Linked DNA regions of Homo sapiens: regions 1, 2, 3, 4, 6 and 7 are each reported to be linked to region 5. The links are microRNA targets in miRTarBase. Many come from high-throughput screens and were not tested one by one. Region 5 holds a microRNA gene; each other region holds the end of a gene's coding sequence.
Evidence for each region. The annotated mature microRNA hsa-miR-574-5p reads UGAGUGUGUGUGUGUGAGUGUGU and lies in region 5 at 1,790-1,812, opposite strand. An mRNA with a match to its seed (bases 2 to 7 or 8) in the 3' UTR can be bound and repressed. Matches are read on the target gene's strand: a 7mer-m8 pairs with bases 2 to 8, a 7mer-A1 pairs with bases 2 to 7 and ends in A, and an 8mer does both.

Region 1: miRTarBase lists VAMP4 as a target of hsa-miR-574-5p. Seed matches in the 3' UTR shown: 7mer-A1 at 1,165-1,171.
Region 2: miRTarBase lists PCDH11Y as a target of hsa-miR-574-5p. The part of its 3' UTR that is shown has no 7-base or 8-base seed match.
Region 3: miRTarBase lists TTLL7 as a target of hsa-miR-574-5p. The part of its 3' UTR that is shown has no 7-base or 8-base seed match.
Region 4: miRTarBase lists GOLIM4 as a target of hsa-miR-574-5p. Seed matches in the 3' UTR shown: 8mer at 1,488-1,495.
Region 6: miRTarBase lists MBD3 as a target of hsa-miR-574-5p. The part of its 3' UTR that is shown has no 7-base or 8-base seed match.
Region 7: the mRNA of HMGN3 is a reported target of hsa-miR-574-5p. The part of its 3' UTR that is shown has no 7-base or 8-base seed match.

Annotation. Positions count from the first base shown.
Region 1 is chr1:171,701,744-171,704,891 of GRCh38, forward strand. It overlaps VAMP4 (vesicle associated membrane protein 4), which reads right to left. Exons shown (of 8, transcript NM_003762.5): 8 at 1-2,791. The coding sequence ends at 2,763. Among named protein-coding and RNA genes, the nearest start is that of VAMP4, 39 kb to the right of the region's middle.
Region 2 is chrY:5,737,521-5,740,520 of GRCh38, reverse strand. It overlaps PCDH11Y (protocadherin 11 Y-linked), which reads right to left. Exons shown (of 6, transcript NM_001395587.1): 6 at 1-3,000. The coding sequence ends at 2,579. Among named protein-coding and RNA genes, the nearest start is that of TTTY23B, 500 kb to the left of the region's middle.
Region 3 is chr1:83,867,407-83,870,406 of GRCh38, forward strand. It overlaps TTLL7 (tubulin tyrosine ligase like 7), which reads right to left. Exons shown (of 21, transcript NM_024686.6): 21 at 1-2,676. The coding sequence ends at 2,556. Among named protein-coding and RNA genes, the nearest start is that of LINC01725, 7.9 kb to the left of the region's middle.
Region 4 is chr3:168,007,453-168,010,452 of GRCh38, reverse strand. It overlaps GOLIM4 (golgi integral membrane protein 4), which reads left to right. Exons shown (of 16, transcript NM_014498.5): 16 at 35-1,764. The coding sequence ends at 184. Among named protein-coding and RNA genes, the nearest start is that of GOLIM4, 87 kb to the left of the region's middle.
Region 5 is chr4:38,866,720-38,869,867 of GRCh38, reverse strand. It overlaps MIR574 (microRNA 574), which reads right to left and starts at 1,836; the gene lies at 1,741-1,836. FAM114A1 (family with sequence similarity 114 member A1) reads right to left here and starts at 2,062. Exons shown (of 15, transcript NM_138389.4): 1 at 2,034-2,062; 2 at 1,322-1,470. It also overlaps a transcript of TLR6 not described here. RefSeq lists an enhancer at 928-1,511 and silencers at 1,719-1,768, 1,819-2,298.
Region 6 is chr19:1,575,716-1,578,846 of GRCh38, forward strand. It overlaps MBD3 (methyl-CpG binding domain protein 3), which reads right to left. Exons shown (of 7, transcript NM_001281453.2): 6 at 2,620-2,823; 7 at 1-2,443. The coding sequence ends at 2,625. Among named protein-coding and RNA genes, the nearest start is that of MEX3D, 9.0 kb to the left of the region's middle.
Region 7 is chr6:79,198,927-79,202,074 of GRCh38, forward strand. HMGN3 (high mobility group nucleosomal binding domain 3) reads right to left here. Exons shown (of 7, transcript NM_001201363.2): 6 at 3,137-3,148; 7 at 2,319-2,800. The coding sequence ends at 2,762. Among named protein-coding and RNA genes, the nearest start is that of HMGN3-AS1, 33 kb to the right of the region's middle.

The sequences.
Region 1 (3,148 bases), not on the chromosome of region 5:
TAAGAAATCCCCCAGTTTATAAAATCTGAGGGCAATTTCCAGTGAACTTTGTCAGGATAGAGGAACCAAATGACCACAGGTATTACTGAGTTATAATAAGAAGGAGTAACCAATTAATCAGTATTATAACAACAAAATTGCTGCAAGGCAATAGGCTTCTGTAATTAAACATAAATCACAAAGGTATGGATTCAGGCATCAAAATAGTGACGTGATTTCACTGAGTATCAACTAGTATTTGCAAAGCTACTTGAATTTTTCTGTTGATCTTCACTTGTTGTTAAATAATGATAGTTTTGATGGTGGTAAAACTTCATTTTTCAAGTGCAGGATGATCTGAGCTGAATGAGAAAAAAAGTAATTAAGGGAGGGAATAAAGGTAGGCCTGGCATCAGTTTGAACAATATATTTTTTTCTTCTGTTTTTGATCGTAAGAGGGCTTATATCTCCAAGGTTACCACAATAAAGTCATAACCATGCCAGCCATTTTAAGGATTTCAGGATTAATCAAGACCAAGAAAGATGAAATGATGAATTACAAACCAAGCCATCACTACTACAAAGTTCCATGAGTGATAATTCTGTTACCCATATCCCAGGCAGCAATATGTTTAAATTACAAAGACAGTGACATATATATTGTCAAAAAATTTTACTGTTACTTATTATTTAAATTTAAAAATTTTATAATTTTACATTTTGTAATTATTTATTTAAAAGTGGCATATTTTATTAAAAGGAACACTGGAAATATGGATACTTTTTGAGAAGTAATCTTCATCTTCACTTGTAGATATTATGGAGAAACCAGATTTCTACATCAACTAATGGAAAATTAACCACTTATGAGCCTAGTTCCAATTCAAATAAAGGACATACATACAAATGTTAGGACTGATTCTGTCCATTCAGTTAAAATATTTCCATTCCTGAATTATTAGCTACTGAAATTCTAAAAATGCTCATTTTTCTGGGTATCTTAACTTAAAAGATTTATTAGCTGTTCAGATGCTGTTTATATTAATTGACATTTACAAAGAGCATAGAGACCAAAGACAATATACACTATAGTATGTAAGACCTTTATCTCCTTCTAAATGCTCTAAGCAAACTATAAAATTTAGTAATTCTATTTAGATCTTCTTAGATAACTTGCAGGTGTCTTGAGTGTCTCAGTCTGCTTTCTCTCTTCAAATTTTTTCCATTCTAAACAGCATTTTTTGCCTCCTAGTAATAATCCTGTAGAATTTTAAAAACAGACAAAAAAACACCAAACCCAGATTCTATGCTTTATTCATTTTGCATTAAGATGACCAAAGAAATAAAACCTAAATAAAATAAACATAAAATCATTTTTCCCTATTTAAATACTGATAATTTCTATTAACCCTATTTTTAATTTAGGGAGTTTTATATTCATATTGTCAAGATATCCAGTGCACAAGTTTCTGCAGAATCACTAATTTTATTATAAAGCTTCCTCTCCCCACACCTTAGGGGACAATGTATTTTCACTCTGACTTGTTTAAAAGACACAAGGAGGTTGGCATATTTTAAAGTTAACACATTTTTTCATTATAAAAACAGGCTTAGGTTAATGGTCACTCTCTAGCATTTGGTTACCGACTGACTGATTATCATATGTGTGCGTGTGTGTGTGTGTGTGTGTGTGTGTTTGTGTGTATATATATATATATATATATATATATATATATATATATATATACACATAGGTTCCTGACTTTCTACTACTCATTACTGTTGGCTGATGCAAAATTTGATTGTGCAACATACATCTCCTCAAGGATGAACAGGAAATGCAAAGATATAAAATTCAAAGTATTAATAGATGGTTTTGCTACTTTTTGTACTTTTGGTAAATGAGATAGTTGGAAGTTAGAGGCTATTAACTAAAATAAAATTAAGGAGTAAGTAAGTTACCTGTAAATTTCATTTACTCACATTAGGACTGACTGGTCTCTCTTTATTGGAGTTTAACAGAAAACAGACTGGACCATGACTGGCAGCTATATATTGGTCATTTTCAAATACTCCAATGACACTCTTCAATAACTTTATTATCTCCAGTTTTATGATGCCATACCATGTTTTTTCACACTGTTTAAAAATTTCCATTTCCATAATCCAATGCCAAAAAAATTACTACACATTCTCTTACACAGTCAAAAATATATTTACTGGAATGTTTTTAGTTATACCTGAGGGCAACAACATTTACAACATTTAGCTTTTGTTACACCTATAAATGTGGAAATTGCTTGCAAAACAACTGTAATATGAAAGGAACTATATTTCTGCAAATATTGACAGAATGGTTATGCATCTCTTTCAGCATATAATTTGGTACTCTACACAGGCTTCCTGACCCCCAGCATGACCCGCTCCCTAATGCAATAATGCAAGTCCTTATGCCATTAAAATATTAATATGAAATATTATAATCAGTGTTTATATACACAAATAATGAACTGGCAAGTATCTAGTTTCAAATTAGATCCTTGAAATATGGAAAAATAGAGGCTAGTTCTCTTTGCCTTAAACATAATTATTAAAAGAACATTTTGTTAGAAAGGGAGAAGATAATTGGACATTCTCAACGTTCCAATTTGAAGTGATACTTGCCTCTTAGTTTCTTGAAAAAGAAGTTTTGAAAGTTATATACACATAGGTTTCATTTAAATTATGCAGCAATCTTTTATTACTGTCCCAGATCTTGTTTAATGAAGATCTCTGTCATCAAATCAAGTACGGTATTTCATGACTATAAGAACTGTAAGAGAAAACATGAAAAAAGCAATATATCAACATCAGATATATATGCTATGTTTGAAGCAATATTCCTAAATGTAGTTGTGTCTACTTTTAGAAATGGGTAATGAGGATTGACTGAACTTTTATCTGAGGTAATAAATAATCAATGGGAAAGGAGAAGCAAAAAATATCATAAAACAACCTAAATGTCTAACATTGGCATCTTAAATAAATAATGGCATAGCCATAGCTTGTATCTGCTGTTAAAATATTACTAAAAATTTTGATAACCTGGGATAATAGTCACAATATATTTATTAGAAAGTACATATAATATAGTCTTAGTTTTTTAAAAAACATGCTTGTATATTAATAG
Region 2 (3,000 bases), not on the chromosome of region 5:
CCTGCTTCCATTCAAAGCCTCTCTGGTAAAAACCAAGAAGAGGGTGCCCAGTCATTTAATATTCTAAACACAATCTAAGTCTGATTATAAAATCAGAGTTAGAAAGGGTAATAAAAGCGTATTGGTTCATTCCTATATCTATAGGAAAGGTGTCAAAACTTCACAAGTTTCCAGATATGAGGATTTAAGAACCTCCCTAGTAACTCAATAAATTATACTGTCAGAAGAAAAATCCCAAATATCCAACTTTGAGTCCTATTTGATTTTCACTAACATAGATAGTAACCATTGAGATGCCTGATAAGTTATTTAATAATCTTTCAACCTCTTCTTTTTATATCCTTTAAATGTGTGTGTGTGCACGTGTGTGTGTGTGTGTGTGTATGTGTGTGTGTAGATCATCAGAAAACTAAAGGTTTGCAGAGAGAAAATGTGAAAATAATTAAAACACAAGAAAAAATCTCACATCATCTTTGCAGGTTTTTTGAGGCAAAGAATGTTCTAAAATCTACTGGAAGCACTGATTTTTGTCACTATTGGTTCTTTTCTTAATCTTCCCCAAGTTTACAATTTTCAACATCAACAATAGCCACAATATCAACACATTTGTGTGATAATAATTTAATAAACATTCAAATATCATCAGTCCTTCGGGATTCACATGCACCTGGAAAACCAGTATGCTCCAAATCCCTTGGAACATTAACAACACGAAGGAGAAAAAAAATTAATTAATTTTATTAATCAAACTCTGATAGTTAATAGTTAAGAAGTTATTCTGCACGCCCAGTCAAATATGACTTAAGGAACTTTACAATGGATGGGAATAATGTATATTCTGAAAACGCTACTTAACCTGCTGGGCACATGAAAAGAAACTTTCTCAATATTCAAAGGAAATCCTCACCAATGAAATTATGCAATTACCACAGTTTATGTTACAAAATTACAGTTTAATCATAAATTAAATATCAAGTTATACATTACAAAATCTATGTCTAAGTTAATCAATAGGAGATATTGACTCCCCCCCAACCCCAACCGCCCCCATTAAACATCAATTGTCTCTTGGTTTAGTGTTATACTGAAACAAGGTATTTTCTCAGTTTTGCTATGGAAGAAAATCAAGTTGGTGATGTTTCTGTACATTTATAAAATGTGCACATACAAGATAATGGCCAGTTAAGAGGATAAAAGAAGGAAATAACAGACAACAGGAGAAAACTAATGTTTTCTATGAATAGTACTGTTTCTTTGCTTAGAAGAATATATTTTATTTCATATATGAGATTTTGATGGTTTTTGTTCTGTGTGTGTTATTGGTATTTCTTCTTGACTGCAAGAAGCAGTCATGTGCCTTATTTCTCCCTCTGCATTTTTCCTTAAAATTCTGTTTGATGTAGATTTATAATTACATTTCTTGAAAAGTTCCTTCCTGATATTCTTGTTGTTATTAGTGGTTTTCTTCAGTAAGTTGAGCTAGAATAACAAAAATCCCTTAGTCTTATAGATTTAGTATGTGGTTTTATCTACAGTTACATGTATTTGTTATTTTTACTGAACACCCTTTGGTAACAGCCTATTGAGCTGTCAAATCAACATTTAAATCTTCCTGAGTTTCTCTACAAAATAGTAGTTTACCGTCGATATTTTAAGTGACTCGTGCTTTGGATGCATCCACCTCCTTTTAATTTTCTAGGCTGTTACATACAAATTCCCAGAAGTAAAGACCCAAGTAATAATGGACTACAGGCTTAAAATGTCAGATACAGTTTTATTTCTGATGTACTTTACACTAAACTATTAAAGTAAAAAGGGGCCCTTTTTAACAAATAGTTGCTTAATTAGGGCAGTTATTGCACTTCTGTGTCTCGAACTCTACTAAAGAGTAGAGAAATAGGTTGTAGATCTAGATCTGTACAGTTTATACATATTCTTTATTGAAAATGTATATACAAATTTTATCAACAATATAGTATTGGAATAAGGTAGAAAACATGACAGCAGAGAGACACAAACAAGCAGTATTTACACTACCTACTGTGTATTTTGAAGGGAGACTCACTAACAACAACAAAAAAACTGAAAACCACAAACAAAAATCAAAAAGAAAGCCCCAAAAAAGGCTAGAGTACGTATACCTTTTAACATTATCTGAACAAAAGTTTAGGTAAACTAAAGGTAAACTTAGAAAATAAGATATTTCTAGGCTTTCCATTTGCTACATACTGGTTCCACACAATCAGCATGGAAACAAATCAGTAATATTGCACATGATGATAAAAACAACAAAAAATACTGTACATCAGAAATAGTACGCTCTGTCATGATAAGCCTTACTGTACAAGGGGATGCAAATTGTTAAATTCCTTTTCTTTTTAAATACACATTCTGAATTAAACAAATTGCAATTTTTTGGTTAACTATTGACTAAGGGTCTAGCTGTAGATTTATTCTGGTATCTGTTTCTATTTACATAGTTATTTACAAATCTGATAATCAGAATACTCATTGGAATTGTATCTTAAATTTTGACTATATACATCTTTTCTGAAAATTTGAAGTAACTATTTTAGCTTTACAAGGGATGTGTTTCCATAATGGGGGAATCACCTCTGGACGGTCTGGCCTGTTGGCGTGGAGCGAAGGTTGTCAAAGGAATGACTTTAATTGAATCATCACTGGGATGAAGTCTTTCAGACATGGTGTAAAACTGAGATGTTGCACTACCTTGCACTCCCTGATCAACAGAGCATAGTCCATTAGCACCTTGCACCCAACCTTGCTGCAAACTGACTGATGATTGGGCCTGACTACGATGGAGGGCAATAACCTGTGGCAGAGAAGAGCTGTGGCTGATTGCAGCAGCCTGTGCTAAAGGAGGGCTGTAGCAGAGGGCTGAGGCCTGTGCTGATGGTGGGCTGTGGTGAAGTGCAGTACCCTGCACTAGAGGAGGACTGTGGTGGAGAGCAGACACCTGTATCGGTGGTGGGCTGTGGC
Region 3 (3,000 bases), not on the chromosome of region 5:
GAAGGCAATAAAATTGTAACGCTCAAAATAAGGCCAGACATAAGTAGCTAGAGAAATGAAATTTATTTGTTGAAATCAATTTGTGGGGTACTTTCATACATTTAAATTTACTCAGTTTTTAAATTGTGTGTGTGTGTGTGTGTGTGTTTTCTGTGAGGAGTGTTTCTCCTAGTGATGGGCATTCTTATTTTTTGTTTTAAATACAAATTTTGCTCTGGTACAAAAGTTGCAAAGCACACACTCCAGCAAATTAAGTAATTATTTGTGATTTAAGATAATGCAAATGAGTGGCCGAGAAACTGGGCTGTTATCATATATCAGACACTTATATATATATTTTTGTGGCCAAATCATGAATTTAAAAGAAAAATGAACTCCATGAAAAGACTTATTACTTGTTGATCATCTTTATGGTGATTCTGTAATATCCCAATTTTTGCATTATTTTTTCTAAAAAAAAATCCATAGCATATTTAAGAATTCACAAAATGGAGTCATAAACAGTGTAGTCACTGTAATTTCCTTCATTCTGATACCCTTATTCTCTTCTTCCACAAATAGCAAATTCTTCTTTGGGATGCATGCAGAGAGGAAAAGTATCTACCAAATGTGGATGTTAGGTAGCCATAAAAAATCAAGTAGCTAGCAATAATTTGGGAAATAAACAAATCATTTCAGCCTAAAAAAGGCTCAGAAGATGGCTTGAAAAGCAAAATACATCTAACTTATAACTTTAGGTTGCCAATTCTTCAGGCTGTGAATTAAACCAGGCCAATTTGCCCCTCTCAGTTCTCCTGCTTTGGGGCCACTTCTTGAAATAACTTTCAGAATAGTAAAAGGAGGTAAAACATTCATGAATTTCGAAAATAATTAGCAGCTAAAAGAAAATAAAACTGTTGGGAGAAGAAGTTTAAATAAATTCTAAGAAGTGATGGCTGCACTGATGATTTCAATGTCAAAGTAGTACGGCTTATATTTTTATGGAAAACTGAAAGCTCACTCTTGGTTTTAAAAACTGTATTCAAGAAAAGGAAGTAAACTGCTATGAAACTTATGCATAACAACTTTGGACAAGAACACTTCGTTCTCTGTTTTGATTTTTTAAAAACCCTCAAGGGTACACTGATGACTTGTAATATGTGATAATTGAAATCTTCTATTCACAATCCTTTAACTGTTTCTGTGGTGCAATGAGAAACTACTGTATTAGAATTTGCAATATAAGTTGATTTCAACCTTGAGAGATTTATAAAAATAAGTTTGTCTCATTATCCTGTAACACTAAAATGAGTGAAATGTGTCAACTCTTCTACTTCTGCGAAACAGGAGAAATTGTATTTAACCACATGTTAAACCCATCAAAGATATACTTTCCAAATAAAAATGAGTGGTATAAGACATAAAAGCCATATAGAAAGATTTTGTTACCATCATTTTCTGTTCCTTTATGTGATTATGAAAAGTAAAAATGAAAGCTAGTTTACATTTTATTTTTAACCCATTGGATTGTCTTCCATTTTATTTATTTATTTTTATCTTCTTTTTATTTATTTATTTATTTTATTTTATTATTATTTTTTTTTTTTGAGACAGAGTTTCACTCTTGTCACCCAGGCTAGAATGCAATGGCACAATCTCGGCTCACTGCAACCTCCGCCTCCCAGGTTCAAGTGATTCTCCTGTCTCAGCCGCCCAAGTAGCTGGGATTACAAGCACTTACCATCACGCCCAGCTAATTTTTGTATTTTTAGTAGAGATGGGGTTTCACCATGTTGGCCAGGCTAGTCTCAAACTCCTGACCAGCGGTGATCCACTCACCTCGGCCTCCCAAAGTGCTGGAATTACAGGCGTGAGCCACCGCGCCCAGCCTGTCTTTCATGTTAGATCATAATATGATCTCACCAGATCCTTACTGAAAATGTACCTTATTACAAGTAGCTAAATTTCCACATAGAGGAATAAAAAGATTGGAGAATCAGGTTATGACTTTTCTAGCACTTTACAGTGTGCTATAGTAATGATAAACCCGTTTTAAACTTCTTAATCTTATCATCAAGCAACACCAGGCTTCTAAATCTTTTTGTTTCATTTAAAATGGCTACTATATATGAGAATTTTTAAGGTATTATACTAAACCCTTTTTCAGGTCAAAAGGCATGTTATCTAGAAAATAATTTAACACTGTAATTGGATCTTCAAGATCAATTTGTTTTATATACTCTGCAGCAAAAATAACATTTCTAGTAGGAAGGAATTAATTATAAACCTAGCAGATTCTAGACATTCACATATTTGTGTAAACAATTTTAACATGGTTTATTACGTTTCCAGAAAGGTTAAGTCTTATATTCCATTTTCTGCTAATTCTTCTTTCATATATCATTTAATATAATAAATATATGTTATTAGGGTGCATATGTGCATATATTTTCACACATATATATGTCTTATATACATAAAACAGCACTTAATGGTCATGTTCTTTGCATGTTCAACTTCAGAGGAAAAAAATGAATTGCTGTTATGTATAACCAATGGCGATCTTCCCTTCTGTTTCACAGATGGCCATATCTGGATGTAAACAAAACATTGGAGCGAGTCATTCCAGGTGAATTGTACTTCAAGTTGTAGGTTGGTGTTCTCAAGAAGAATTGGGTGCTCCCTGGTAGTAAATACCTAAAAATGATGGTTAACAAATTAGATTTTTACAAGCAAATTATAACTAACTCACTAAAGGGTTATGTGGTTAGCAATTTACGTAGTCTATATGAGAAATGTTACTGTAACAAAAATGCAATTCATATAAAAAGATTTCCTCCTCCAGACTGTAGGAAAGGAGAGAAGAGCTAAATATAGATGCAATATATGATGTTAGCATCCCAAGACATCCCATAAAGAGCCACTGTACTCAAATACTGTGAAACTGTTTATGTGGCTAATGTTAATTTAGAATTCATTATCAGTCCTTGTAAGTAATATGTGGAGCCAGTCAAATATTTC
Region 4 (3,000 bases), not on the chromosome of region 5:
TCTCTTAGTTTTTCTTTTTTCTTTTAATTTTAAGACTGATGATAAAAATAATGATGGAGAAGAGCAAGAAGTTCGAGATGACAACCGCCCCAAAGGCCGAGAGGAACACTACGAGGAGGAAGAAGAGGAGGAAGAAGACGGGGCTGCAGTTGCTGAGAAATCACATCGAAGAGCTGAAATGTAGCGGCACCCAATTTCTAGACAACGCTCAGCCAACGGATTCTTTTCAAGCTGCTCAAACATAAATCTGCCTACTGAACTCTAGGATATTTAATTACAAAAATTAAGAACTTAGACTTTTTTAAAACTTTTGTATTAGAAATGCGCATACATTTATATGAATATATTTTGATAACGTAGGTCTAGAGCTTCTTTTATATTCAAGCTAAACATGAAAAAGAAGAAAAACAATAAAGTAAACCTGAGCCCCCACGTCCCAATTTTTTTAATAGATTATGTGATGTTGGAAAGCTCATTGATTTTGTATATGTTTCAGCGTGTTACCTTTCTGGCTTCCAGTTCCCAGGTGTTCTTTGTTTGCCTTTGATAAAATACAGGATTTAAGAACAGAGAGTACTGCAAAATGCCATGCAGACTTTAAAGAGAATGGCCTGTTTACTAATTGCTGCCCTTCTGATGTCTTTATGTATAGCTCTGATAGAATTTTCACCAGTCTATGTATCTCTGGAGTGAGATCTATGTACAAAGTGACATACAATTGGAAATCCATTTTTGTTGTAAAGACATTGTTTTTCAGACTTTTCAGATCAATTAGAAAAATGTCATTGCTTTAAAATCATAGCTGTTCTGTTTAAGAGGAATTGAATTTAAAAATGAGAGAGTATTAAAACTCATGTGGCAGTATCCTGGTCTTAATCAGGTATTGCAGTGTTCAAACAAGGTATGGACACATCAACATATTCACCTTTTGGAAGGACTAGTGACTTGGTTAAAAACTAATGAGTGTTTGCGTGTGGTGTTTCTATGCGAGCACCCATTCTCAATTTTTTTTTTTTTTTTTTGTTTGAAGCCATTGATTGATATTCTTGTTTCAGTGTCTGGTTCCCTATAAGTAATATATATTTCCTCTTTAAGCTCTGTGCCTCAATATGCAATCACTTTGATAATAAGTATAAATATGAAGACATACCAAACTGCAAATAGGATTATTTTTCAAAACTATATGGTGAAACATATGGTGATATGATAGACTTATGGTTTTTCTGTTTGCTGGGATTGGGTCTGCTTTTTGCCTATGTGTAAGGCATTTTAATCATTGTGAATATAATAGATTCCTTAAAATAAGAAAATTAAAAATCAGAAACTTCCCTTGGAGTAGAGACATTTCAGTTGCAAGCATAAAGATTTTTAAATATATAACACTAGGTTATATAATTCATATATGTGTGGTTTTGTATTAATAATCAAATTAATAAAAACATTTCATTTTCTACCATTGTATGAACGTAATTTTATTTTTTAATAACCACACTCATAGATGGTTTTGATTGTTCCAGTTGAGTGATTGTGTATGTACGCATAGGAATGTTTTGTTCAGTTGTACTTTGTATTTCCAATAATCAGAAATCTTACCTTTATGTATAAAAACCCATTATGTAATGTAAAATGTATAATATTGTACATAATATTCAGAATACAATTATTTTGGTAAATTAGCTTGTATTTTTAATGTCCCAGTTGCAGTATTTAATTATTTGAACCATACTGAAAGTTGGTAATAGTCAATAAAGCTAAAAAAAAAAAGTGGCAAATCTTTTAAACTATGTGGTCTCTTATTAGTTTATGACCTTCTAACATTCTTCACTTCTTTTTCATAAAAAGAAAAATTTTAAGAGATACCAATATAAATTAATGAATTATAAAGTGCCTTTTCCCACCTGCTTCTGTTTTCTGTATCTTTCTCTACTTGGATTGGCATGTGATTTTCCCTTCTTTTTCTAAAGAAAGAGCTAAAGATGTTTATTTTATTTGAGCTAGCTCTGAGGGAAGAAAAAAGAAATGGGGCAGAATGTATGAGAGTGTCATGTGCATGCACACACAAAAAATAAATGAAAAACTTTAAATCCCCTTAGGAAAGCAACAATCACAAACCATTCTACTCTCTGTATAGCACCAAGTTACAGAGCCATTCTAACTAATGTGTAGAGGAGAACTAATCAGCCTGAGCTGATCTACGTTAATGAGGTGACAAGAAATAAAATGTCACCAGTATTTATTCTGCCAGTCTGTGACTTTGGTGCAACCAATAAATCAAAGGATTTGGTACCAAGAGTATAGTCGGGGTGGGGGGTGGGGGTTGTGGGAGGAAGGCACGTTTATTGGCAATGAGTATAACGGGGCACAACAAAACTAGTACACATGCAATGACTGGTTATTTGCAAGAGTGATTGGGAAGAGTTCTAGGAGTAAAAGCATAATCTTAGCCACATGTGCCAGTGACTTAATTTTACAAAGGAAAACTTGACGTGTATTGAATGCCCTCATAGTGTAAGAAGTATGTGAATAGGATCCACTTCAATCCCCACAGTATTCCTGTAAGGTTGATGGAATCCGCTTCTCACAACTGAAGAACCTTGTCTTCCAAAGCACTTAACATTTAACTTCTTTTAATGCTTAGTTTTGTTTTTAGTTCTATTACATTGTAGTACATCTATACTATGTCATCTTACACAGCCATTAAAAAGAGTGAGTTAATTCTATTTCTCAATCACCTTCTGTGGTTTCTGTTTTACTGTTTTCTCCTAGTTTTTTCCTAGCATACTGACTACATTATCTTTTTTTACAGGTTCTTCTTATGCCTGCTCTTTCAATATTAGTGTTCCTCAGGTTTTGTACTAGAGGTATTTTTTCTGTTCAATCCTCTTCCCATCTATGTGTTATACAAATGTCTTGAATCCATTTCCTTAGCCTAGCTTTCTGTGTCCCATCCTATGTAAAATATGTAAGTTTCAAAACTGAATTTACCTTGTTAAAACCTGC
Region 5 (3,148 bases):
TTTTTCTTGGTATTAAAATGTCTTTCATTTTATGAAATAGTGACAGTGGATGGATTTTTTTAAAAAAAATGGCCTGACTTGGCAGCATAAAAATTTGGTTAGCATGATATCCTGTGTGAGGTCATCTCCCCCAGTTAAAAAAAAAAAACAAAAACAGTGCCAGTCAGCGAAGGACCAGGAATAAAAACTCTGGATGAGAGGCTCTTAATCAGGTTGTAGCAGTTTGTATGAGTTTGTATAAAGCTTGACAAGTCTACGTACCCAGGCTCCAGCCTATTCTCTGTGAGGCTGCCAGGCATTTTTGGACCTATTTGCTCTCCTGTTCAAAAACCATTAGGTGTAAATATCTTCACACTTCCCATCATAATCCAGCTCCAATCTCTCTCCACCTCTTGCAACTCTCAGTATCCTCCACTCCTGCCTCACCAGTCTTTTCTCCATTCCCCATAACTCTTCACATCTCCCTGCCTTTGCTTACGCTGGTTCCTCTGCCCCGGTGCTGCCCTTCCTCCAGCTGCCTGGCAAACTCCTATTCCTCTAGACACCCAGTGTCTAATGTTACCTTTCATTCTGAATTTTTCCTTAATCTGCCCCACTGCTTCCAATGAAATAACTGCTACCTCTTCTATGTTTTTGGCACTTTGCACAGATTTCTATTCCATGTATTTATGGAGTATTTACTTCTGCCATTCTGTCCTCCAAGACTGTGACCAACAGCACCTAGGTTGGTTTCTGTCCCTCAGATATTTACTGAATTGAAATACATTGTGTTTGATATTAATAAAAGAGAAACCATGTTTGATGTAAGCCTGGTCAAATAAACAAAGACAAGTTTACTTTTATGGTCTGAATCGCTCAGATTCAAGAAAGCCCCCTCCAACCCTCAAATTCCTTCTGCACTGTCTCACTTGTGCCTCAAATCCATCCCTAACGTCTCATTCCTTCACTTAAAGGTTACAATGTAAGAAGTTTATCAGATTCTTTCCCAAGCTCAGGCTTGATGGAAGAAAGGAGGGCGGGGACGCAGGCCTATGGGTGGGGTAGGGAAGGAGCCACTAGGCTGCAGAGAGGGCAAAAAGAGGCTCTGAGGATAGAGCCTGTCTCATTCTCAGTTGTCACAGGTTGGCTGAGGTCACAGGGAGTTCAGAGCACACTGATTTAAGAAGCCACCTGCCTGTGTCCTTCAAGATGTTTAGGATGGGAAATGATGGGATCAGTAGGGCATAGGTAATGCTCTCACAGCCCATAGAGAGATGTCTTCCTACTTAAGAAAAGGCAGTGACGTTCAGGCGCCTGGTCTGAGGTGCCTGGAAATACTCACCGGATGGCAGAGGCGAGGGCTAGCCGACTGGGTGGAGGGGGCCTGGGGATCTGCGGTAGGGAGTGGGACCCATCCCGGGGGCTGCGAGTGGAGGCGGTGCCTGCTTAGAGTGTTGGCTGGACTGGAAGAGCAGGCAGGGCGTGGGTCGGCTGTTGGGGGAGGAGTAAGGCGAGGGGAGCGGGGAGGTCAAGGCCTGAGCTCCCTGTGCCAAGGCCGAGGGCAGGCGCACCCTGGGACGAGGCCTCTGTCTTACAGGGACCTGCTCCCTTCGTGCCCGGGCTGGGGGACCCTGCAGCCCACCTCTGACTTGGCCCCGAGCCATTGGGGGCACTTTTCCAGACTTGCTTGGTGCCAGGACTGGATACTTTGGGAGATCCAGGCAGGCTCCGCGGAGGTTCACGCAGGCCGAGGGGGCAGACCCTGAGTGTGGGCGTGTGGGTGTGTGCATGAGCGTGGACCCGGAGCGACACACACTCACACACACACACTCACACGCCCGCACCCACGCAGGTCCCTCGGCCGCGCCGCCCCAGACCCTCACCCCAGAGCCGGGTCCTCCCTGACCACTGCTTCTCACTAACGCAGAGGGCAGGATTCGTGGGTCCCGGACGAGGCGCCAAGGTATGGTGTTCCCACCACCCCCGGGCAGCCGCCCCCGCGCTCGCCCGCCCCCCGGGGAAGGGGATGGGGACCGAGTGCCCGGGGCTCTTACCGCTCAGGCGGCCGAGTACGCGCGGGAGTGCCCAGCGGGTCCCGCCCCGCCACGTCTGCAGGGCCGGCGGGGACGCGGCCGGAGGGCGGGCGGCTGGAGAGGGGGCCCCGCCCCGCCTGCGCCCCGCCCCACGAGGAGCGCCGCGGGGACGCCCGGCCACCCCCACGCTGCGAGGGCCGGGCCCGCGCTGGGCGAGTCTCCTGGAAACTTGGCTTGTCCCACCCCTGTGCCAGCGCGGAAAGCCAGAGCGCGCCGCCTCTCCAGCCCAGGGCGGGTGGGTCTCGGGGTTCGCCAGATCCCTTTCCTTTCCTTAAAAGGGCTTGGAAAACCCCCCGCCGTGTCACTGGGAAGAGGTCGCTCAAATTCAGCTAAAGTTTGATCTCCTGATTCTGCGTTAAGCAGCACTCCCTTGCCCTGTCGGTGGGAGTGTGATAGATTTAAAACAAACAAACCCCAAACAAACAACGAAAACCCACTTTCCAGAAGGCCAGTTTGGAGCTGTGGGTTAAAACTCCGATGTATTAGCTTTGGCCTAGGAATTCCACATTTGTGAATTTGTCCTAAGTAGGCAGTCAAATGGGCAAATATGTATGTACAAGGATGTTTGTTGTAGTTGTTTCTGCGGGGGGAAGCCGGAGACAATCTCAATGTCCCCCAGTAAGATTGGTGAAGTAAGCTACAGTAACTTCAGACATCGAATATGTTGTAGCCCTTAAAAATGAGGATTCGTTGACATGGAGGGAAGGCCACATATGAAGGCCTTCCTCAAATATGGCTTAATATGAACTCAGATGCGGAGGAAGCGCAGTGTTTATAGTATTAACTAGTTTTGTAAACAATTTTGTATTTTCTATAAAAGTCGGAGGAAATACAATTTAAAAATAGTGATTCTTTCTGAGCGATGTGTTTAAGGCAGATTTTCTCCTCTCTCACTCCATCCCTTCTTCTTTTTGAAGAATTATAAATTCAAAGTTAAAGAAAAAATAGCCCTAGTCTCTCCCTTTCAATATCACTACCATTTTTTATAGTGTGTGGATCCTACCATAGTTTTTCTAAGCTTATATAAATACATGTATGCATAAACAGCTTTTTGTTTGCTTTTTTATAAAAATGGC
Region 6 (3,131 bases), not on the chromosome of region 5:
ACTCACTTCTCACCGGGCACGACCTCTAGCAAAGGCCAGTATTGCCTTGGCCTGTGGGGGTCCCCAAGGTTTCAGGGAGAGAGGAAAGGACCCTCAAGCTTCGTCAACAGCGACAGCCCAGGGCCTGGATGGGCTTCCAGTGGGGAGGGCCCTGTGGCAGGGGTAGGGATCATCACATCTCAGACCAAGGCCAGGACATGGCCAGAACCCCGGGATCAGAGGGACTGATCGGGGTCTGTCAGTGACAGGAAGCTGGGCTGCGACAGAGAGGGAGAGACAGCAAGAGACAGAGACAGAGACCGAGGGAGAGAGACAGGAGAGAGAGCAAGAAACAAAGAGGGACAGAGAGGGAGACGGCGCAAGAGAGAGACAAGAGGGAGAGATAGAGACAGGGATAGACAGAGACAGAGAGAGACCAAGGGAGACAGGGACACAGTGGGAGATGGGAAGAGGGAAACAGAGTGTCTCTGAGTGCCGGGCAGATGAGGGGAGGGTGGCCTCCCAGCCTTCAGGTCCAGAAAGCAGCTTCCAGTGGCCATGGCTAGTGAGCTGAAGTCCAGGGTCCCGGGGCACAGCTCCCCTCCCTGCAGCGGCTGTGCAGGACCTGAGGACCTGGGGGGCCCTCCCTGCCAGGCAGCCCCTCCTGCTTCCCTTCCTTTGGAAGGAGCGGTGCTGGGTCTGAGCCCCAGCCCATCTTCCTCACCGGGGCAGCAGGGCCAAGACCCACGATCCCTAGGCTGAGCCAGCGGCACCTCAGGGGGCACGGCCCTTGCCCACAGATGCCCAGGCCGGCCTGGTCTTCTCTGAATACCCCTAAGCCTGACTCTTGGGTTGTGAATGTCCGCGAGGTTGGGGGACCTGCTGGCCCTGTCCCCACACCGCTTTCAGCCTTTCATCACCCAACCAAAGACAGAAGCTCAAACGTGGGCACCAAAGTCTAGCGGACGCACCGAACTCCAGGCTCCAAGCACATCCACCCATGGTGGCTTTATTCAGTCACGTCCCCACGCCCACGGCTCCCTCCACCAGGCAGACAGAGGGGAGGCCACCCCACTGCAAAGGGTCCCAGCCAGTGGGCACCAACCTCAGGAAGACGTGGTCCCCACCTGGAGCTTCCCTCGGCTGCCCTGGCCCTTGAGCCCGTCCTGAGGATTTGTGCTTTGACTCTGACAGGGAGCAGCAGGAAGCTGCCAGCCCACTGCCTCCATGCGGGTCCTTGGAGGGCAGACGGTGGAGCGGCGCTTCCTCAGCTCCCGCGGTCAGGCCCCATCAGGGATGGTCACAGTCCAGCCACAGGGGCGACTCTGCCCATCAGTCCCCCTGGGGCAGCGACCAGATCCTGGCTGGGGCAGCACCGGGACAGGCCCTCTCTATGGGCCTAAGGTCAATGCAGGTGGGGGCTCGCTGGGCCCAGGCCAATGAACCCACCCGTAGGAGCCCTCACTGGGCAGCAGGGCCAGGAGGGCACCAGGGACTGGCCGCAGAGTCCACTCGGGGCAGGCGTCTGTGGCTTGGAACCTGCCCTCGCCAAGGCACTGGGGGGTTAAGGAGCAGATCCCTCAGACGGCCTTGGGCCAGAAGCTCCCTGGAGAGCTGGGCACCTCGAGGAGCGTCTGGGAGCCTCACCCTGTCCCAGTGGCTCCTGGCACCCCTGGGAGCGTCAGCACCACCCCAAAGCTGGGTGCCTGTGTCGCCACTAAACAGAAGGGAAACCGAGGCAGGGGGGCCGGCTGGCAGTGGAGCATTCTGGCAGCGCCGGGCGACCAAGTCCCGACTGGCAGCGGCTGGAGTTTGGTTTTCAGAAGCGAAGGCTGGCGTTGGCACACAGGGAAGGCTGCCCGATGACGTGCCTCGACTGTGTTACATTTACTGAAGGAGAGCGGCCTCCTGGGCATGCCACTCAGGCACGGTGAGGCTCTGTGGCACCACCAGCCGCATGGCAGGGCAGAGAGTGGCGCCGTCCTGCATGCCCCCCACAGCAGACCAGAGTCCCGTCCTCACGCTGCACAGTGGGTGATGTGAGTTTCAAAACTACGCCTCCAGACCGAGAAACCCTCCCAGCTGTCAGCAAGCCGTGGCGCCGAGCTGCCGGGCACCTGCTGGCTGCTCTCCAGTCTCAAGGAGCTGGGACAGCGGGCATGGGGAGGAGCTGGCCTCGAGCCCAAAGGTCGTAGGGAGCCAGGCAGGGCCCAGGAGCACCCGGCACTTCCCGAAGCCGGACTCTGTAGAGGACGAGCGTGGAGGGTCTTTCGGGTGGGGGCAGCCCCAGCTGTGTGCCCCGAGGCCCCGGGAAGTGGGGACGGGCCGAGGAGGGAGCCAGGAGCACGGCCTTCCTCCTGGGTGTCTCCAAGGCTGGGCTTCGCCGCCGAGCCTGGTTCACGTGGGGCCGAGGACCGCGTCTGCAGGCGGCTCCAGCAGGCAGCACGGGCTCTCGGCAGGGCCTCTGGAAAGGACAGGGAGGGCTGGCTTTAGCGACTCCACGGGACGGGGACGCTTGGGCTCTTCTAGGGAGATGGGAAGCTCTTGGGAGGCACCCGTCATCCCAAGCACATCTGTGTTCACCAGGCAGTCCCCACTGCCAGGACCCGACTCCAGGGAGCCCCCGTGGCCCCGCAGCACCTGCCCTAGACGTGCTCCATCTCCGGGTCCGGGTCGGGCTCCTCCTCCTCCTCCTCCTCGTCTTCCTCGTCGTCGTCCTCAGCGCAGGCCTTGTCCAGCGGCGCCTCCCCGTCACGGGCCAGCTCCTCCACGTGCGCCAGCATGTCGGCCATCAGCGCCTCCTCCAGCCGCTTCCGCACCTGCTGCACCAGCTCTTCCTGCTTCCTGGGGACACATGGACCTTGCGTTACACCAAGGTGAGCGGCCAGCAGGACATGGACACAGGATGAACGTGGGGACCTCAGCTGGGAGGGGAGGCCCGAGGGATCCACAGGCACCCCCCCAGGACCAGCCCTGGCCCGTGCCACCCCTCCCTTCACAATCCACGCAGAGAATGACCGGCTGCCGCTGGCCATCGCCAGCGTCCGCCACCCTCCCAGATGGCCCCCCTGCCACCTCTACTGGGACCAAGGGAGGGGCCTGACCCTTCAGTCCCCAGACTTGGCCCTGAGCCTCCCCGGGGCTCAGCTGTG
Region 7 (3,148 bases), not on the chromosome of region 5:
GATTGTAGATTCATAGGGCTTTTATGATTCTCCAGCAAATTAGCAGACAAGTGTCTTAGAGAAGAAGAACCTTTTTCTAATTTTCTATAAATTCACCAAAGGGGTAGCAGTGGGGCAGTGCATGGAGAGTCCCACAGCTTCCATGTAGTTGAAGGTAGTGTGTCCTTATCTTTGGCAGTATATTCATCAAGTCTTCAAGTTCTGGGGGACCAATTTAGGGATCCTGGGTTATTTTGGGTAGCTGTGGTCTCTATGATACCTGCTCGGTTTTTCAATGTGGCCACGATAATATCCATATATTGTACTTAAGTAGACACCAATAGCCTACAGAACCCCTGATCTTTGTGTGTTTGATGCTATTACTGATAGCAATAATAGTAATAATTGATGCTATTAATAGTAATAGCATCAATGGTTATTATGAGCAACAATGATTTAAAACACACTGACTCCCCAACAGAAAAAGACAAAATCAGAATTCACAGAAGAAATCCAAATGACCATTAAACAGAAAAAGTTTAATTTTACTAATAATAGAATACATTTAAAATTAAAAGTGAGGCATATTTTCATTTATTAGACTGACCAAAATGAGTGCTGGCAAAGGTGGAAAGAGATGGTATTCAAATGTTGGTGATGGAAGGGGAAATTGGTACATCCTTTTTGGAGGCAGTCAAAATGTCAAATGTATATTCCCTTTGATTCAGACATTCTGCTTCTGGGAAGTTATTTAGTTGAGCAGAAGAAATACATAGGTAGAAAAACTTTGTATATAAGCATGTTTACTGCAGTATCATTGACAGCACTGTAATATTAGAAATGATCTATTTCTCCAACTACAGATTGAATAAATTCAAAATAGGATACTGATTCATTCTCTTTTAAAAATTATATATATACATATATATGTGTGTGTGTACATAACCCTAACACACACACACATACACACACATGAGAAAGAGAAAATAGAGAAAATAGTGTGCAGTGATTATCTCTGGGATGTAGGAATGGGAGGAAAAAAGATTTTGACTTTTTGCTTTATGTATTATTGTAGTATTTGGTCTTCTAAAAAAAAATCACTGGGATCACTTATATAATTTTTTAAAAAGTAAACCTAGGGAATTTATGATTCACTTCTGGAATGGAAACTAGCCAGCAATATACTTCAACTGAGTACTAACTGTATACTGAAAATATTTTTGTGAAGAGTTCATTGGATACTAGATATTTTTCTTTGCAGTAAAGCAGTTTTTAGCATGTCCAAAACTCATGAATTAAAGTATGTTTCATACTCAGAAGCCAGGTAAACTATGAACAAGATTATTCTGTATATAACATGGTTGATATATGCAGTCAACTAATGACAGACTTGGGACAATGAGGCAAGTTTAAGTTCTTAGGCCCAAAATATAATCTGGAGGAGGAACTTTGTTTTTGTTCATAAGCACAATACAAAAGCATCTAAGGCCCAAAGGAACAACAGCTTCTTTGCAGGAGTCCCTGAGCAGCACAGGCACCACCTGCCATCTTAAAAGATTCAAGTCTTCATTTAAGACAAATGCCCAGAATTCAGCTTTCCTGGAGTGCTTATGCAGTTACCAAACTTCTCAGGTTGCAAACAACAACGAAAAATTATATGTATAAAATAACTCCTCTGTTCCTGGCACTGCTATGTCCTTTCATAGACATAAAGACACTGTTTAAAATTCAAGACTCCAGCCTGGATTTTCTCCTTCCAGTAAGTCAAATACACTCCACATCCCTATTTCTTATCCTAGAAAGGAGCTCTAATAATACCCATGCCAACTCCATTCTCAAACTGATGCAAGGCTGAAACATGCTCATGTTGGGTAAAGCACTTTCAAAGCTGTGAAGTTCTCAACTGAATGCGAAGGATTTTGTACAAATGTGACTTAGTATTTATCATTTCAAAAGTGGGAGATTTTCAAAGTTGAGCCTTAGTTTATGTTTTTTTTTTTTTTTTTTTTTTTTTTTTTTTTTTACTAGCTTTGATTTAGCAGCACTATATCCTATTTATAAGGATTTTTAAAAATTAGTGCTTTATAAAGTTTTATTATACAGTAATCATTGCTGGCCACTTCTGGTATAAAGTGAATTAGATGTAATTCTTCTACATTAGCATTCATAGATGATTTTATTAAAATAGTAACAATGTTAAAGGCCAGAAAATTAAGAAACAATCTTATTTGACTTATTGGAGATACCGCTATGGCAAGGTCTATCAAAATTCTTTATATCTTCTGCAACAATAAAATGAAACACTCCCAAAATGCAGTAAAGATACTAAGAGTCAGGTATTCTGCAGACAAGTAAACCTTTTATTTTAAACCACAAATAGTCAGCAGGTGGCCACAACTATCCATGTTTCATTAAAATCACATAAAACCTAGGTACAAAAGCACCACTGATTATTGCTCTAGAAAAACTGCATGAAAAATTCAAATATGCACAGTAAAAACACCACAGTATGCACAGGACTAAATTTTAAAGCAAGTGCATGGAATGCTGAATCAATCTTACACACAGCTTCCAATATTTAACTGATATTTATTTTACTTGAGGATGATGTAAATTTCCAAAAAGCATGACTATGAGACGATAAAATGTCCATCCTTATATATTTTCGTATGCCAACTAGTAGAGTCCTAAAAAATTAGCATTTACAAAATACTTGGTAAAAATAGCTTTTAAAAGTTGTCCCAAGAGATACATAAAATCAACCCCAATTTTTCATGACAATTCATTCTCCCTCGTTATCTACAGATTCAGTTTTCTGTGCCTGTGAAAAAGAAAGGAAAAAAAAACATATAGTTACTACTGAAACTACTATAAGCAAAGGAAATTCCACCCACCAACACACACAGTTTTGAACATTTGTTTTCTTTTTTTTTTCCAGCTTTACTGCAAAACCTATTTCAACTCTGAGTGAAGAAGACAAGGCAGGAATATATTACACAAACACTTTGTTTCATTTATTGCTTTCTGCTTTTCAAACCACCACAGAAGCCTTACCTGCAAGCTCCCACTCTTCATAATGATTAAAAAAAAAAACCACCACACTACTATCTGATTCTAGTCACTGCAAACATGCAGAATTTTCTACTGTACCCTTAACTCTCACTGTTTC